Regions from separate parts of the Homo sapiens genome. Here all the other regions are linked to region 3. The links come from fine-mapping of genetic effects on plasma protein levels. A gene starts in region 3. Each other region holds a variant in brackets. All regions are shown on one strand. Distances are from middle to middle.

Region 1 (5,224 bases), 22 kb after region 3:
AGGCCGGGCCTGGTGGCTCATGCCTGTAATCCCAGCACTTTGGGCGGCCGAGGCGGGCGGATCACGAGGTCAGGAGATCGAGACCATCTTGGCTAACATGGTGAAACCCTGTCTCTACTAAAAATACAAAAAATTAGCCGGGCGTGGTGGCATGCGCATGTAGTCCCAGCTACTCGGGAGGCTGAGGCAGGAGAATGGCGTGAACCCGAGAAGTGGAGCTTTCAGTGAGCCGAGATGGCGCCACTGCACTCCAGCCTGGACGACAGAGCGAGATTCCGTCTCAAAAAAAAGAAAAGGTACCTGAAACTGGGTAATTTATAAAGAAAAGAGATTTAATTGACTCACAGTTCTGCAGGATACACAGGAAACATGGCTGGGAAGGCCTCAAGAAACTTAGAATCATGGCAGAGGGCAAAGGGCAAGCAGACATGTGTTATACGGCCAGAGAAGGCAGAGAATAGCAAAAGGAGAGGTGCTACACACTTTTAAATAACCAGATCTCATGAGAATTCACTCACTATCATGAGAACAGCATGGGGGAAATAGACCCCCACGATCCAATCACCTCCCGCCCAACCCATCCTCCAACACTGAGGATTACAATTCAACATGAGATTTGGACATAGATACAAATCCAAATCATATTAAAAAGTGAAATTTAAAAATAGCGTAATATTAGCAACAGACACCAAACAGGTAGGAATAAATCTAAGATGTACAAAACTTTTATACTGAAAACAACAAAACATTCTTGGGATAAATTAAGTAAGTCCTAATAAATAGAGATATATCATCAATATTGTTAAGATGTCCATTTTCCCAATTTAATTCAACATAAGCCCAAGCAAAATCCCAGGAGTCATTTTTGTGTAAGTTGACAAGGTGATTCTAAAATGCATAGGGAAATATAAAGAACCTAGAGTAGACAAAATGATCTTGAAAAAGAACAAAGTTGGAAGACACATGATTCAACTCTAAAACATATTATAATGCTACAATCATCAAGATAATGTATTGATTTAGGCATAGACATAAAGATAAATAAAATGAATGGAGATCCCAGAAACAGACCCATACTTACCTGGTCAATTGATTTTGAACAAAGAGTCCAAGGTAATTCAACGAAGAAAGAATAATCTTTGTACAATTGTATATCTGTATAAAAAAAAATGAACCTCAACCCTTGCATGAGACTGTCCACAGAAAGTAAATGAAATGGATTATAGATATTAGCTTAAAAGCTGAAGCTATAAAACTTTTAGAAGAAAACATGAGAGAAATATCTTCATCACCCTAGTATAGGCAAAGATTTCTCAGACTAGATATGATAAAAACTAACCAAAAAAAAGATACTGATAATTTGCACTTTATCAAAATTAAAAACATCTGTTCTTTGAAAAACACTGTAAGAAAATAAAAATAAAACAATATTTAATAAAAGACTTGTATCTAGAACATATTAAGAACTCCTACAACTCAATAGTAAGAAAATACACGATTTACAAATGGACAAAAGATTGAACAAACACTTCACAAATGAAAATCTATGGCAAAAAAACAAAAGTGCATGAAATGATTCTCATCATCATTACTTAAGAGGAAAATATGAATTTAAATCCACAATGAGTTATCACTACACACCCCTAGAATAGTTAAAATTAAAAAGCTGGACAATACCAAGTGTTGTGAGGATGTGGAGCAATTAGAACTCTCATGTACCACCAATGGGAGTGTAAAAGAGTACAACCATCTTGAGGAACACTAGAGCAATTTCTTATACTCATATACCTACCCTATAATCCAGAAATTCCTAGGTATTTACTCAGGAAAAATGAAAACACATGCCTACAAGTTATACACAAATGCTCCTAGTCCCTAACTGAAGACAATCCAACTGTCCATTAACAAGTCTTTGGATAAACATATAGTGGTATATTCATGTAATAGAATACTATTCAGCACTGAAAATGAACTGTTAACACATGAATGAATCCAACAAACAACATGAATGAATCTCAAAAACATTATGCTTGAATGAAAGAAGCAGGGTACAAAACAGTATATACTATAATGATTCTAAAATATGTGAAGTCCAGAAACAAACAAAAACTAATGGTGGCAAATTAGAAAATGCTTGCCCAGTTGAGAGGCATTGGGTAACTGACTAGAAAGGGCACTTTCTGGGGTTATACAAATGTTCCAAATTTTGGTTTAGGTGGTTTTTGCACAAGTGAATACCCCTGCCAAAATTGTAAAAACTGAATACTTTAGACATGTGCATTTTATTATGTGAAAATTATGCCTTGATTTTTTAAAGTTATGATTAGATTTATCTCTATATATTTGTGCCCAGCAATAATAATATCATTTTCAAGAGGTGCTGATCGATTCCTTTGCATTGTGATAATTGTCTTATTATAACTATCTGTAATTATATGAAGCCTTCATAAATGTGACCACGTGCAATAATAAAGTTGTAAAACACTTAAAATAGTAACTGGCAGACTGGGGAATATATTTGCAACTCAGCTCTCAAAGGGCTAATGACCCTCATATATAAGAGATCTTAAAAATATATATTTAAAATACCATAAATTCAACATCCCTTCATAATAAAAACTCTCAACAAATTAGGAAGAAAGCAGTATGGCAGTTCCTCAAAAAATTAAAAATAACAGCAGGGCACAGTGGCATGGGCCTGTAATTCTAGCTACTCAGCCGGCTGAGGCAGGAGGACAGCTTGAGCCTAGGACAGCTAGTGCCTGTGAATAGCCACTGCACTCCAGCCTGGGTGACAGAGTAGGA[C/T]TATATCTCTAAGAAAAAAAAAAATTAAAAATAGAACTACCATATGATCCAGCAATCCCACTACAGGGTATACATCCAAAAGAAATGTAATCAGTATATTGAACAGGTATCTGAACTCCTTTGTTCATTGCAGCACTATTCACACTAGCTGATATATGGAATCTACTTAAATGTCCATCAACAGAAGCATAGATAAAGAAACTATGGTACGTTTATATACATATTATAGTTTACACACACACACACACACAATGGAATACTATTCAGCTATAATAACAAAATGAAATCCTGTCATTTGTGGCAACATGGATGAACCTGGAAAACATTTTTAAACTAAATAAGCTAGGCATAGAAAAATAAGTCCCACAAGGTCTCACTTATACGTGGAGTCTAAAAAGTTGTTCTTATAGAAGTGGAAAGCAGAATAGTGGTTAGCAGAGGATGGGGGGATGGGGAGAAGCCGGGGAAGGTGAGAGATTGGTCAGTGGGTACAAAGCTATAGCTACATAGGAGGAATAAGTTCTGGTGGTCTGTTGCATAGAAAGATCACTAGAGTTAACAACATTGTATTGTGCATTTCAAAATAGCTAGAAAAGAGGTTTTTGAATGTTCTTATCACAAAGAAATAATACATGTTTAAGACAACAGATGTTAAACTGTCATCATTACACAATTATACATGTATCAAAACATCACATTGTACCCCATAAATATGTACAATTATTATGTGTCAATCATAAATTAAAAAATAAAAATGAAAGTCATAGGACTGTTAAAAGAAAACATAAATTACCAAAGTAAAGACTGCTTTACTCTGGGAGTGGAGTGCTTTCATCACAAGTGGATTTCACTCTTAGGTGTAGCCACTTTTTCCTATTTCTGGTTTTATTTTCACATTTAATGGTGGTGTGAAAAAAGGGAACAAAGAAAGAAGGGAGAGAGGAGGAAAAAAGAGAGATGCACACCTATGCTCAAAGAAAGTACTGGACAGAACTATACAAACATATTAATAACAGGGTGGAATTATGGGCCTTTTTTTCTCCTAATGGATTATCTGTATTTTTTTTTACAATGGACACGTAACTTCTGCTCATTTATAGGAAATGCTATCATGCAAATGAGAACTATTTCTGGCGAAACTATTATATCTAGAAGTACTTTAAATAATTTTCATGAAGTTCAATTTATGAGTCAAAATTTTATTCCTTCAACAGGCAATGCTTTTATTATTCTTTTATACCCACCCACAGAACATGGGTGGGGATAAATGAATTAAGAAAGCTTCATGAACTTTTTACATATAAATGCTGCATCATTTTATATTCTAGTAGCTGATAATATTTTTTAAAGCTCATTTAAATCTACCTAACTTATATTTGGAGTTTTCTTCCACAGTTTTCATCAGACATTGTGCCCATATTGGTTCCTTAAAATAGATGTAGAAGCTGGGGAGGTGGTGCATGCCTGTAATCCCAGTTACTTCAGTGGCTAAGGCAGGAGGATTGCTTGAGCCCAGGAGTTCAAGTTCAGCCTGGACAACATAGCAAGGCTCTGCCTCTAAAAAATAAAAAATAAAAAAAAAACAAAAAGTAAACAGACGTAGTAAAGAAATCCACTGGCAATTTCTATGTCCTTCTCAAAAAGCCTTTGTATTATAAAATCTTCAAATGTGCATAGAAATAGAAGATTGTCTATTTAACTCTGTATAACCATCATGTAGACTTACATTTTGTCATATTTGCTTAGTCTTTAAAAAAAATACAGATTATAACATTTCATCCCTAAATACTTTAGCAAGCATTTCTAAAATATAAGGATATCTTATAGCCACAAAATCATTTTTACACCTAACAAAATTAACAACAATTTCTTAATATCACCTAATTCTTAGACCATATTCAAATTTCCCCCATTTCTGCCCAAAATGTATTTTATAGTTATTTGTTTGAACTAGGATCCATATAAAGTCCGACTGACCATTTCATTTCTAAAATCTAGTCTTTTTAAAATCTAGAATAGTTTCCATCATCACCACTACTTTTTTCTTTCTTCTTCTTCTTTTGCTTTTTAATGTTATTGACTTGTACTTGGTTAACTGTTTCATAAAGTGTTTCCTGGAAATTTAAAGAATGATTTGACAACACCGCCAGAGAACTCACTGTAAAAATAATCATCTCAAAAAAGAAAATCAGACTCATTTTTTAATATCAAAATCTTGCAAATCTCCATCTTGAACATCAATACTATAGTGTGGAGGGGCGGGGCAAGTAGGAATATTAGAAAAATTCCATAAAACTAGCATATTTTAAGAGCTAGGTACAGTGGCTCATGCCTGTAATCCCACCTCCTCTGGAGGCTGAGGCAAGAGAATCACTTGAACCCAGGAATTTGAGTCTGCAGCGAGCTATGATTATACCAC
Region 2 (5,224 bases), 760 kb before region 3:
CTTTGTAATCTCTGGCACTGGCAAAGCATGTGGAAAATTCCCACATTCTGTAGGCAGTTATTCCTTATTGAAGATCCTATAGAAGTATGGTTGCCAACCCCAAGGAACTCCTTCCCTCTCCAAGAACAGAAGAGAACAATAATACACCACGGCTCCTAGAGAGATGACAAGATCCTCTACTATTTGGCCCAAGGGGAAGCAGCTTTCTTAAGTTCTATTACTCAGCAAAGCTGGCAGGATTGTCAGTCTTTTTATTTACAGAGGACCAACAGAGAGAGGAAGATATGACCTCATTTGGGTGGATAAGCAGCCACTCTCCCCCTTGCTGAGGATTTGAGCTAATTTTTTGCACAGTGGTTACAGTTAGCTCTGAAATTCTCTGTGACTGCTTAGCCTCACAGCTGTGGAACATACAGGAAGATAGTGACTGAAAAAGAATCCAAAAGACAATGCAAAACAACTGTGTGTATCTGTGTCTCCATGCATGTATGTATGTATGTGTGTGTGAGAGAGAGAGAGAGAGGAAGGGAGGGACAGGCCCATGTATTGAGGATTGACCAAGGGAGCAGACGCATGAGAGGCAGTTAATATCTCTTAATAACCTCTCCTATTGTTCTGACCATGAGTTGTTTCTTCAGCGTGACCTCACATGGCTTAGACATGAATTTTCTGGCTTCATGGGCAGTGATGTCCACAGAGCCAACATGGCCCACAGAGGCAGAAAATTCTAGAAGTGAAAACATGATCCTGAAAACACATCCTGCAGAGTGTCTTGCTCAAGTCACAGAGTTGCCTGTGTTCTCTGGCATGTCTCTGGGAAGAGAGACCACATGGTTAGCTCTTTGGTGGGCACACTCTGGGTTGTGCCCAGCTCACAGTGAGCCTCTCTACTCTCCTTTCTGCCCCTATACGATCTCACAAGCACTTGGGAAGCACAAACCAACATCCCTGAAACAACACGGGCAGGGACCACTGGCAGTAAATCAGAGGCTATCTAGGGGTTTGGCGTCTCAGGGAACATCCATCTCCTTCCTCACGCCCTGTGGCATCATCTGAGGGCGCCATGGATGGCCCAGCTTCTGGAAACTCACCACATACATGTGTAATCAGTTCCGACCAATTAAAACTTTGCTTATAATTGACCTTCCCATTCCTGGCTGTCCTCCCTAAAGACATCCAGAAAGACTACTGTTCTGGGCCCACTCCTCCTCTGTGGACATGCAAAACCTAATGACCTGCAAGTGAGTCACTCAAGGCCACTCAGGGAGTGGTGCCCTTCAGAAACAATGTCCACCACCCCTGTGAGCTCCTAATGCTGGGACAGGTAACCTCTCTGAACTACTAGGGAGCTGGCAGATGAAAAGGATAGCACATGTGACAGCAATTTTAAAATTTAAAGAGCTATAACAACTGCTCCTGTTTACTGAGAGTTTACTGTGCCTCTGTGCTTTATGAAGATAAGAGGGTCTGGGAACTTCAAGGTGCTACTTACTCCCTCTGACCTATGTAAATCATTTAAATGGTCACATTTCCCTTTGGGCCAGGGCTGCCATGAAACACAAGTGAAATACGTGGCTCAACTGTGTAGGAGAGACTAAGGCTCTCATATCTCTGTTTTCATGGTTTCCCCTGGGCATGAGTTATTTCATAAATTTGTATTTCTCCCAAGTACTGATTTTTATGTATGAGAAGAATATACTTGAGGGATGATTCCTATTTACTGATACTCTGCTTTCATCCATAATGCTGTTGACTGTGAGTTACTCATAGTCAACAGCTTTGTGGATGAAAGTAGAATATAAGTAAATTAAATCACAACCATGAATCGGAACTCCTGTCATTCTGAAATCTAGGCACACCAGGGAAGAAGAAAGGTATTAAGAATTATCAAGTAGGCATTCGTTTGAGTGGAATGTCCAAGGGACTGGTCACAGGTGCGGACAGATGAACAAGTTCTTCAGCTAACTCAGTAGCTAGCTCCCGAGCTTTCCTCCCACACCAAAGGATAAGACGAGCCAGGCAGTATCTTACCTTCTTCGATGGTTACATTCCCTCGGAAGAAATATTTCCCATGACCTCTGGAAAGCGCCACACCTAAACTGTGCAGAGAGACAAAGCAAATCTTGAAATCCCTGGCATCGACTCGAATAGACTTGTGGGCTAACATTTTTTAATTTTCCATTTTTCACATTTCCATTTTATGATCTGTCAACAATTTTTCCAACTGTTTACTTTCAAAACCCCACTGATTATCACTGGTGTTGGTTTTTCTTAGGTTCAATCAGCTGCTTCAAAGTAACTTCTGATCAGAAATGCCAGCAGCAATTGGCTACTCTTTGTGTTTTCAGAGTTGTGGCAAACTGCTCGCCCTTCCAGCAAGCCCTTCTCTCAGATGCCCTCCCAAGGACCATGAGCCCTGCTCTTTATACACCCTTGTCCTGCATTCAGCCAGAGATGGGTCTCTCCAGCCCCTAGACTTTGGGACTCGGGAAATTGACCCCTGCTCAAGGGCAAAAACAAAAACTTCCACTACTACATGAGTGTAACCACATTACTGTGTTGCAGGCTTCTTTGCCCAATCCTCTCCCTAGTCTAATAGGTTTTTCACACTCACTGGCTTGATTTAAGATCCATTCCGTTTTTATCAAAAGCAAGAGACTATGTTTTTAAAACATAGTCCCTTACGTTAGAGAGACTATTTGGCAAACCCACTTAGCAGCTCATGTGGTCCTTATTTGCTCCTGGTTCCACATGGAATCCACCCATGATCCTTGGCAGTTTAGGACAACAATGCTAGAATTTATTTTTCAGATTATTCTACAGTCAGTAAACTCCTTCTCTCCTTAGCTCTGAGACGCCAGTTCAGGAATATGAAGCAGGCTTACTGAAATAATTTTTTACAAAATGAATTACAACACTAAGTTAATAGTAGTGGGAAACTTTAGAATGCTACATACACATCTGAAAGCAGCCAATGAGGCAAAGCCATTTTTCAGGACTGTTACAAAGAGAAACAACAGGATTCAAAAGTAGACAAGCACACAAGGACAGTTCAGAGAAATGGAAACAGAGGCACAACATGTAGGAATGGATATGCCACCTCCAGGTTTGAAGGATTGTTTTTTTGGTCATGGAAATAAAAGGTGAAATGGAACTCACAAAGCAGCAAGTTCAATAGTTAAGGACCCTGGTAACCCTCTGCACTTGTCTTCACCCTTAGCGGGAACCCCCAAAGCATATTTGCTTGACAATGAGATGCAAAGCCATGGCAGATTGAGTGAGTTCTCCTAGGTGAGCCTGAACCATCTCCCC[C/G]CCTTCTGGAAAACAAAAGCAGCCTGGGAAAAGCCCCTTCCTCACTCTTTCCAGCCTTTTGGCAGGGTGTTTGGTTATCTTCAGATGATGAGCTCTGAGAGTGTCAGCAGGTTTTGTACAAACACAACTGATGGGTCTGATGGAATGTCCATGTATTATGGTCAGCTCTACCTGAAAGGAGTACCCTTGATGTCTGTATAATAGTAGTCATTTGTCATCACCAAAACCCGTTTCTAGATTGAAAAAAAAAAAAAAGTCGTAGAGAAAAGAAAACATGGTTAGTCTGCTAAGTGACGTCTTCAGAAATAAATAAAAATAAATGGACACACTATGATCAGGTTAACAGTACTACATGAATCTTGTTTGAGATAAGTAAAGACAAGAGAAAAATGATCTCAGCGAAAGATATTTATTCCAGATATAGCTTTCAAAGCTAATTTTTCACAGTGGTTTGTTTTAAATTAAGCAGCAAAAATGTTTGAGAAAAATGTACCCCTTTGTCCACTGTCTTCTTCACCTCCATGGAAAACTTCCCCGTCTTTCGATTCACCATAGCATTTCTCAACTAAAATGATAAAAGAAAAGTGTGTTAGTTCTTCCCTGGGTTATCATGTAATCTGGACATCTTGCATCCTCAGCGTGCAGTGGAGCCTCCATATTGAACTTACACCTCGAAAACAGAGCTTCTGAAGAATAAAACACCCAACTGCTCATGTACAATGGGAGACAGGCTAACAACAATAAATAAATGACCTTCATCTTTAATTTGGGGAGCTCGTGTAAACTTCAGGACAATAACAAAAGAGCCTTGGCGATACTGATGAATCCCGGGGGTCAGAGCGTGAACTCCTGGAGACCCGCTGAAATGCCGAGCAAGAACGTCTCTGGGGACAAGGTACGTTTTCAAAAAGGGTACTGATTTGTCATGGAGAAATCACTTTTCAAAACGTAATCAAGTTAAAGACGTTTTCCTACACAGTAGTTAAAAAGAAGAAGAAAAAAAAAAAAAAAGGCCAAGCATTTGGAAGACAGGGGTTAGCCTTTCCTAAGATGAATCATCTTTAAATGCTCTCTGAGAAATCTGGGCCAATTAATGACCTTGCTGATGAGGCAGTGAACAGGAGCGACCCTGTATCTGATTTTTTGGAGGTCCTGTTTAGGAGCAGCGAGCCTGGCTCTCCTCCCCCACCCCCAGCTGACCTCATCTAATTACATGTGGCCCTTCCATGAGTTCAGAGGAGGACAGCAGACGCAGTGATGAAAGATGTGCCGTCATGGGCACCAAGGCAAGACGACAGAGAAGGCCAGTTAATGGAATAGGAGCAAACGCTGACATGCCACAGCCTGTCAGGAAAGGCTCTCTCCCCACCCCTCTCTTGTCTTTTTCATCTTTTCCCCTCTTTTCTCCTTTGAGGAGCTTGAGTAAGATCTGGCCGATAGAAAACTGCAACACTAGCAAGCAACCTAAATTTGATTCGAGGCTGTCTAGATTTGGGTTTGCATTCTCATCTTCTGTGTGAGTGAGTAAAGGCATAATTTTTAGCTGGAGGCATGTATAAAATAAAACATATATTTTACTCTAGATATTTTTTTAACAACACATAATAGGCATTTCTGGAAATATTTTCCCATTTTAACTTTTGTGGTTTTGGACAGGGAGAGCTGGTCCTAATTAAGTCTACTTTCTAACTTTTAAGAACGGCTCGATTTATCTTTAACATGGTTTTCATTTTTCCTCTTTCTGGTGCCTGCCTAAAGCCATTTGGGACCTTCTCCTCTCACATTCCCCAGGCAAACTAGAGATTAGGTAAGCCTCGCTGTGTCTCCATGCCACCCCACCCCCAACTCCCAGTAGCACAGAACAATCAACATGGGGGTCTGGGAGTGTCCAAGGCCAGGGTCACTGATGCCT
Region 3 (5,224 bases):
GCAGCATGCATAACACATATGGTACATTGGCCCAAAAATCATATTTTAAAATGTTTAAAAGTTAACTTAACAATTTAAGCTGTTTGTACCCATTTTCAGAGAATTATTCCCTAAAGGCCAATTTTATTTTCTATCATCAAGAGAATACTTTGATTAATCCTGTTGATCTGCTAACTTGAAATTCTTTGAACCCCTCTAATCTCTCCTCCCAGACCCATTTTTTTTTCTTTATTTCCTGAAGGGGAGAACGAAGGACCATTTATCTCACAATGTAATTTTAAGCTTATGCTTAAAATGCTGCCTATTTGAATTAAAATTGATGCAGCTTGTGATAAGAACCTAATAATCAATTCTCCATTCTCATTACTCTCCAGAATTACATGGATGCAGACCCATTTCTTAAGTTTGTGGACTACTCTCATAGGTTATTACCCGGCAGTGCAGCTGAGTGGAAAGATAACCACATTCATTCTCCTTATCTGCAATGATGTAATGCATCCTAGCCCTGGGTCTAGATGATTGGGGAATAATGGGATTGTACAACTGCAGGGATGACAAACAATAGTGCAGCGTCTTTCTCTGATACACTGAACCCCACGCCTCCAACGCAAGGTGAAAGGCATCACAAAATAGGCACTGAGTCTGCCCCTTGGATGAAGTTAGCATTTTTTGGCCCGAGGAGCATCTGCTCTGGCACTGAAACAGCAATACCGACACGGAGACGAGAGCCATGCAAAAACACTCAGTTTCCGAGCCCCAGCCAGGACAGTGCGAGTGAGTATCCTGCTTTTCTTTGTGGTTAGAATCAAGTGTCATCTAAAAATAACCGGTTGGTAGGAAGAAGTCACTGCATAGTACAATGCCAAGAAACCCGGGGATCAGAGAGTCCTCCGATAACTGATGCTGCTCGGGGCTCACGTTTGTTTGGAAAACTAAATCTGCCTCCATTTTCTGTGCCGGAAAAATCATCGCTTCCTGCCACCACAGAAACCTTACCTTTTGCAGAAGCTGGGAACCGGAGTACTTAGCAGCAATGGATTTTATCTCCCCACCAAAAGCCGAGGCCCAGAGCTTCACCCTACAGGGAGAAGGGGCACAGGAAGATATGTAACACCCGTGTCACAGTCAACACGCACGCACACGCACACGCACACATGGGACTATGGCTGAAGGAGCAGTGCGATGTAACATGTTTTAAAAGAAGAAAAGATAGAAAAAGCGGCTTGGTAGAAACTGCCAGCACCAAAACTGCAAAGCGCAGCGCGGGAGGGGGCCCGAGGGGGGTCGCGGAGTTAAGAATGCGCAAAGTCTCCCAGGCTCTCTAAAAAGACCACTGAGTTTCATTCGAACCACTGCCCGAGGACTCGACCCCCCAAACTGGGCATCACCTGGCAAATAGCAGTCAGAAGAAATCCACCCATCCCCCCCCCAAAAAAAGAAGTGGGGCGGCAGTAGAGCAAAGAGGGGGGAAATTCAGCGGCCCATGGAAGTTGGATTCGGTAACCAGGCTCCAAAGTTGGTGCCGTCACTTGAGGTGAGCCTCTCCAGATCTCACTCGGCAACCTGCGGGCAGGGGCCAGAGCATCCCACCCCGGCCTCGCCGCCCGACGCGGGTCCCGAAAGGCAGGTGCGAGCGGCGAGGCCGACGCCCGCGGCGGGTCCTGCCCAGCCGCACCTGCAGGCGCCCAAACTTGGGCACAGTGGGTCGCAGGCGGCAAGGTCCCCTCCCCGGGCGGCGCAGGAGCCGGCACTTACACGGAGAGCGGTATCTGCTGCTCCGAGCGCACCACGTCCCCCAGCGCGGCGTAGAGAAGCGCGGCAGCGAGAAGCGCCGAGGCCCCCCGGGACGCGCGGCGCGGCGAGCCCGGCCCGGCCATGCTGGGCTCCCTCCGACGCGCCCGCTGCGGCGGCGACGAGAGCGGCCGCGGGGAGCTGCGCGGAGCGGGCGGTGGGCGAGCGCGCGGGGCTGCCTGCTCCGCTCCGCGCCGCCCCGCCTGCCTCTCGCGCGCCCGGCTCACTTGGGGAGCAGAAAAAGGAGCGGGTGGGGGGGGCGGGGAGGGCGGAGAGGAGAGGGAGGGAGGAGAGGTGGGGAGGGAGGGAGGAGAGGTGGGGAGGGAGGCGGGCGGGGGAGGAGGCAGCGAGACGCGCCTCTAGCAGCAGCAGCCGCCCGGCCCCGCCTCGGCGGCCCCGGGGAGTCCGGCGGGCCGCGGCGGGAGGGCGGCGGGGCAGGAGGCGCCGCGCGGGCGGGGACTCGGAAACTCCAGTGTCCTTGGCCGCGGCGGAGCGCGCCCTGCCCCACCCGGGCTACTGCGGCCGCTGAGTTCTTTACAACTCCGCAGTCCGCCACCGCGGGCGCGACTCTGGGGCTGGCCCCGGGCCGGGCGACCCTAGCCAGGGTGGGGGTTGGGGGCGCGGGAGGGAAGCCGAGGGCAGGGCGCGGCGCTCCGCACTTTGCGGGCGGCTGCTAGGAGAGGGCGTAGCATGCCCGCTCCGCCCCTGGGCCGGGCGGGGTCGGGGGCCGCGGAACCTAAAGGGGGCGCGCCCTCCGCCCCCGCCGCGCGATTCTCCTGCGGGGAGGGAGCTGGGGAAGAAGCAGAAATCTCAGAAAGGAGCACAGGCTCGCGGCGGCAGGCGGGATCGCACGCGGGGCGGATCGGGCTGGGGATGGGACTGGGTGGGAGCTCGGGGCTCTGGCTAGGGCAGCGCTGCGTGACCGCCCGCAGCTGCTCCTCCGGCCGCGGCGCCCGACAGGGGAAAGCACGGAGGGCGGTGCTGCCACCACGGCTTGGGCGCACCAGCGCGGGGCTCCCGGCATCCGGCCGCAGCGCAGCGGCCCCCTGCGCGCCCGACCCAGGCCCCGGGGCTCCCCAGCGGCCGCTGCCTTCGGAGTCCGCCCGGCTGCGGTGACTGGTGGGGACCGGGATGTCAGGGTTGAGCGAGGAAGCCAACGCGGCGCCGAGTCGATCCTGACCGGGGGACACCCTGGATTTCGGGATAAAAGATTTCTCCGAGCCTGGGGGATTGCCTGCTCCCCACTCCGGCGCCCACCGCACTGGGCAGGAGGCAGTGAGCGCCGGAGGAGGCGCCTTCTCGCCGCCCTCAGGGGCGAGGAGAAAGGAAGCCGGAGAAGCCCCTGCGCGTTCTGGGAACCAGGCTTCTCCCCGCCTCTCTCGCCGCTGCCCCCACCCCGGGACCCAGCTTGCAGAACCCCTCTCCCCCGTGCGAGGTATGGGGTGTGATTGGGAACTTTGTGGAGCCCTCGCGCAGGCTGGCGGTAAAGACCGACCGGAGTGAGGCTGAGTCATCCTTGCCCGGCCAAGCGCAACTCCGGTGACCCCAGCAAGGAGTGCGCTCCTAACGTCGCCGGGGCTCCCGGCGCACCAGACACCTGGGTTCATATTTGCATGCCTTTCTGCAACCAGGGCTTTGCTTTCTGCCCCGTCACCCGCCCTTGGCCTCAGCATCCTCAGGTTGCAGGGAAGTAAGGGCGGGCTCCAGCTTCCGCCAGGTGGTGTCCGGCTAGGAGCCAGGCCGGCTCTCCTTTCCAGTAGTCCCTGGAAAAAGTTACCCCTGCAGATGTTGGGCTTGATCTCAGAGTTGGCAGCGAGGGAGAAGGACTGCTACCGAGAGGCTCTTAGTGCTTTTCCCGAGTGCGGGCAGACCCGAGCTCCCCTGGGCTCTGGCAGGTCGCGCTCCCACCTTGGGGGGCAACGCAAGGAACAGGCCCCTCTCCAGGAGCGCCAGGTGCGCCCCGCCCGCGGGCAGTGTCTACAGCCTCTACGGATGACTAACCGGTTATAATGAATTCTCCGCTTCTGTGCATACCCTCCGCCTGAGGAAGCGTGCCAGCCCTTTCCAAACCGAGCCAAGCGCGGCCTGACCCCCGAGGCAAGGGGTCCCAGGAGTTGACCCTCAAATTGGGGGTTAGAAGAAAATGTGTTTTCCTATCAGAACGCGGGATCGTTCTTCCTAAATGAAAGCATAGTGAATGAACCAGTGAGTGAGTGCATGCTAGCTCTTAGTAAGACCATCCGTTTCCCACATGGTATCTATATGATGACGCCCTTCATGCCTTCACTCATTCATGTAGTCAATAACTGTCAATCAGCCTCTATTGATAGGTACAGTAGGACATGCTGGGAAGCCAGTAGTGAACAAAGCAGGCTCTCTGCCCTCACCGAGTTTATACACTACGAAGAGGACAGGCTTTACTGCAAAAACCATAATGGTAAATGCACAATTATACACTTTGACAAGGGAAAAACAATACTGTGTATGAAGAAAAAGTACCTGTGACACCCATACTATTGTTGTGCCTATTAACTGATGAGAACATCGAGGCACGGCAAAGTCATACAGCTTAAGTCATATTTAAGCAACTGCTTGACTGCTGGACTATACTGAAGACCACCTGGGCACCAAGGTCATGAAGACATTTCGTAATAAAGTCACTATGCGTTGCCAGCCTGACACAGGTGAATTTCGCAGTTGTCTCGGGCAACTAGAGAGTAGCGATGAGAGGCCAGGCACAGGAAGTCACAGTCCCAGGAGGAGAGTGTTTTGAGCATTTGTAACGCAGGCCATCTTAGGCAGAACATTATGCACGTTACATTTAAGATGGATCCCGCTAACCATATCCTAGTATCTCAAAAATAAAAAATATTTAAACTAATACTAATAAACTCAGAACTCAAAGTGTCCAAAGATTTGGGGTCTTACCACTTACACACTGTAATATTCTTTCCAGAATCACAAAAATCAGTGCTGAAAGGGATCTGTAAGCAATCTAGTCTTGCAGTCTTATTTTAACAGAGAGGAAACTTGAGGCCCAGAAGGATTTAGCCACTTGTCCAAAGGCACACACCCCTTAAAGAGAATCTCCTCACTTTGAACCAGGGAGTTCCTGCAGCTACATGAGAATAAGGGACCAGGAGCACCTTCCAGTAAGCCAAATGCAGTACCAGGGCATTGGGCACTACTTGCCATTTTCACCCAAAAGCTTATATTTCAACACCCAACTCTCAGTTGAAGCATGGAATCCAGAGAAATAAAACTTTCATTGGTAGACCTATGCACTCCATCCCACCTAGCTGAGGATGTCGCACTTTGTCCTGCAACAGTGAGGAGCTGCTGGAGGTGTTTGAACAGAAGTGAAAGATGATGACACAGAAGTGAATGTTTTAGGAGCATTCACCTGATCCAGCATATGGAAGGGATTCTGGAG

The links. PIP is the chance, under the fine-mapping model, that this variant and not a neighbour inherited with it causes the effect. Sun 2018 read protein levels with aptamers (SomaScan).
Region 1: its variant is fine-mapped to the plasma level of the CACNA2D3 protein (Sun 2018, PIP 0.95).
Region 2: its variant is fine-mapped to the plasma level of the CACNA2D3 protein (Sun 2018, PIP 0.95).

Annotation. Positions count from the first base shown.
Region 1 is chr3:54,097,105-54,102,328 of GRCh38, reverse strand. The region is part of intron 1 of LOC124909381 (a long non-coding RNA gene); the gene reads left to right. Among named protein-coding and RNA genes, the nearest start is that of CACNA2D3, 23 kb to the left of the region's middle. The variant C/T (reference allele first, on the strand shown) is at 2,806.
Region 2 is chr3:54,877,671-54,882,894 of GRCh38, reverse strand. It overlaps CACNA2D3 (calcium voltage-gated channel auxiliary subunit alpha2delta 3), which reads right to left. Exons shown (of 38, transcript NM_018398.3): 19 at 3,806-3,877; 20 at 3,484-3,545; 21 at 2,032-2,099. It overlaps CACNA2D3-AS1 (CACNA2D3 antisense RNA 1), which reads left to right. Exons shown (of 7, transcript NR_046666.1): 4 at 3,951-4,207. Among named protein-coding and RNA genes, the nearest start is that of CACNA2D3-AS1, 21 kb to the left of the region's middle. The variant C/G (reference allele first, on the strand shown) is at 3,313.
Region 3 is chr3:54,119,367-54,124,590 of GRCh38, reverse strand. CACNA2D3 (calcium voltage-gated channel auxiliary subunit alpha2delta 3) reads right to left here and starts at 2,039. Exons shown (of 38, transcript NM_018398.3): 1 at 1,756-2,039; 2 at 997-1,078. The coding sequence starts at 1,877. It overlaps LOC124909381 (a long non-coding RNA gene), which reads left to right and starts at 1,149. Exons shown (of 2, transcript XR_007095914.1): 1 at 1,149-1,534. RefSeq lists a silencer at 3,233-3,282.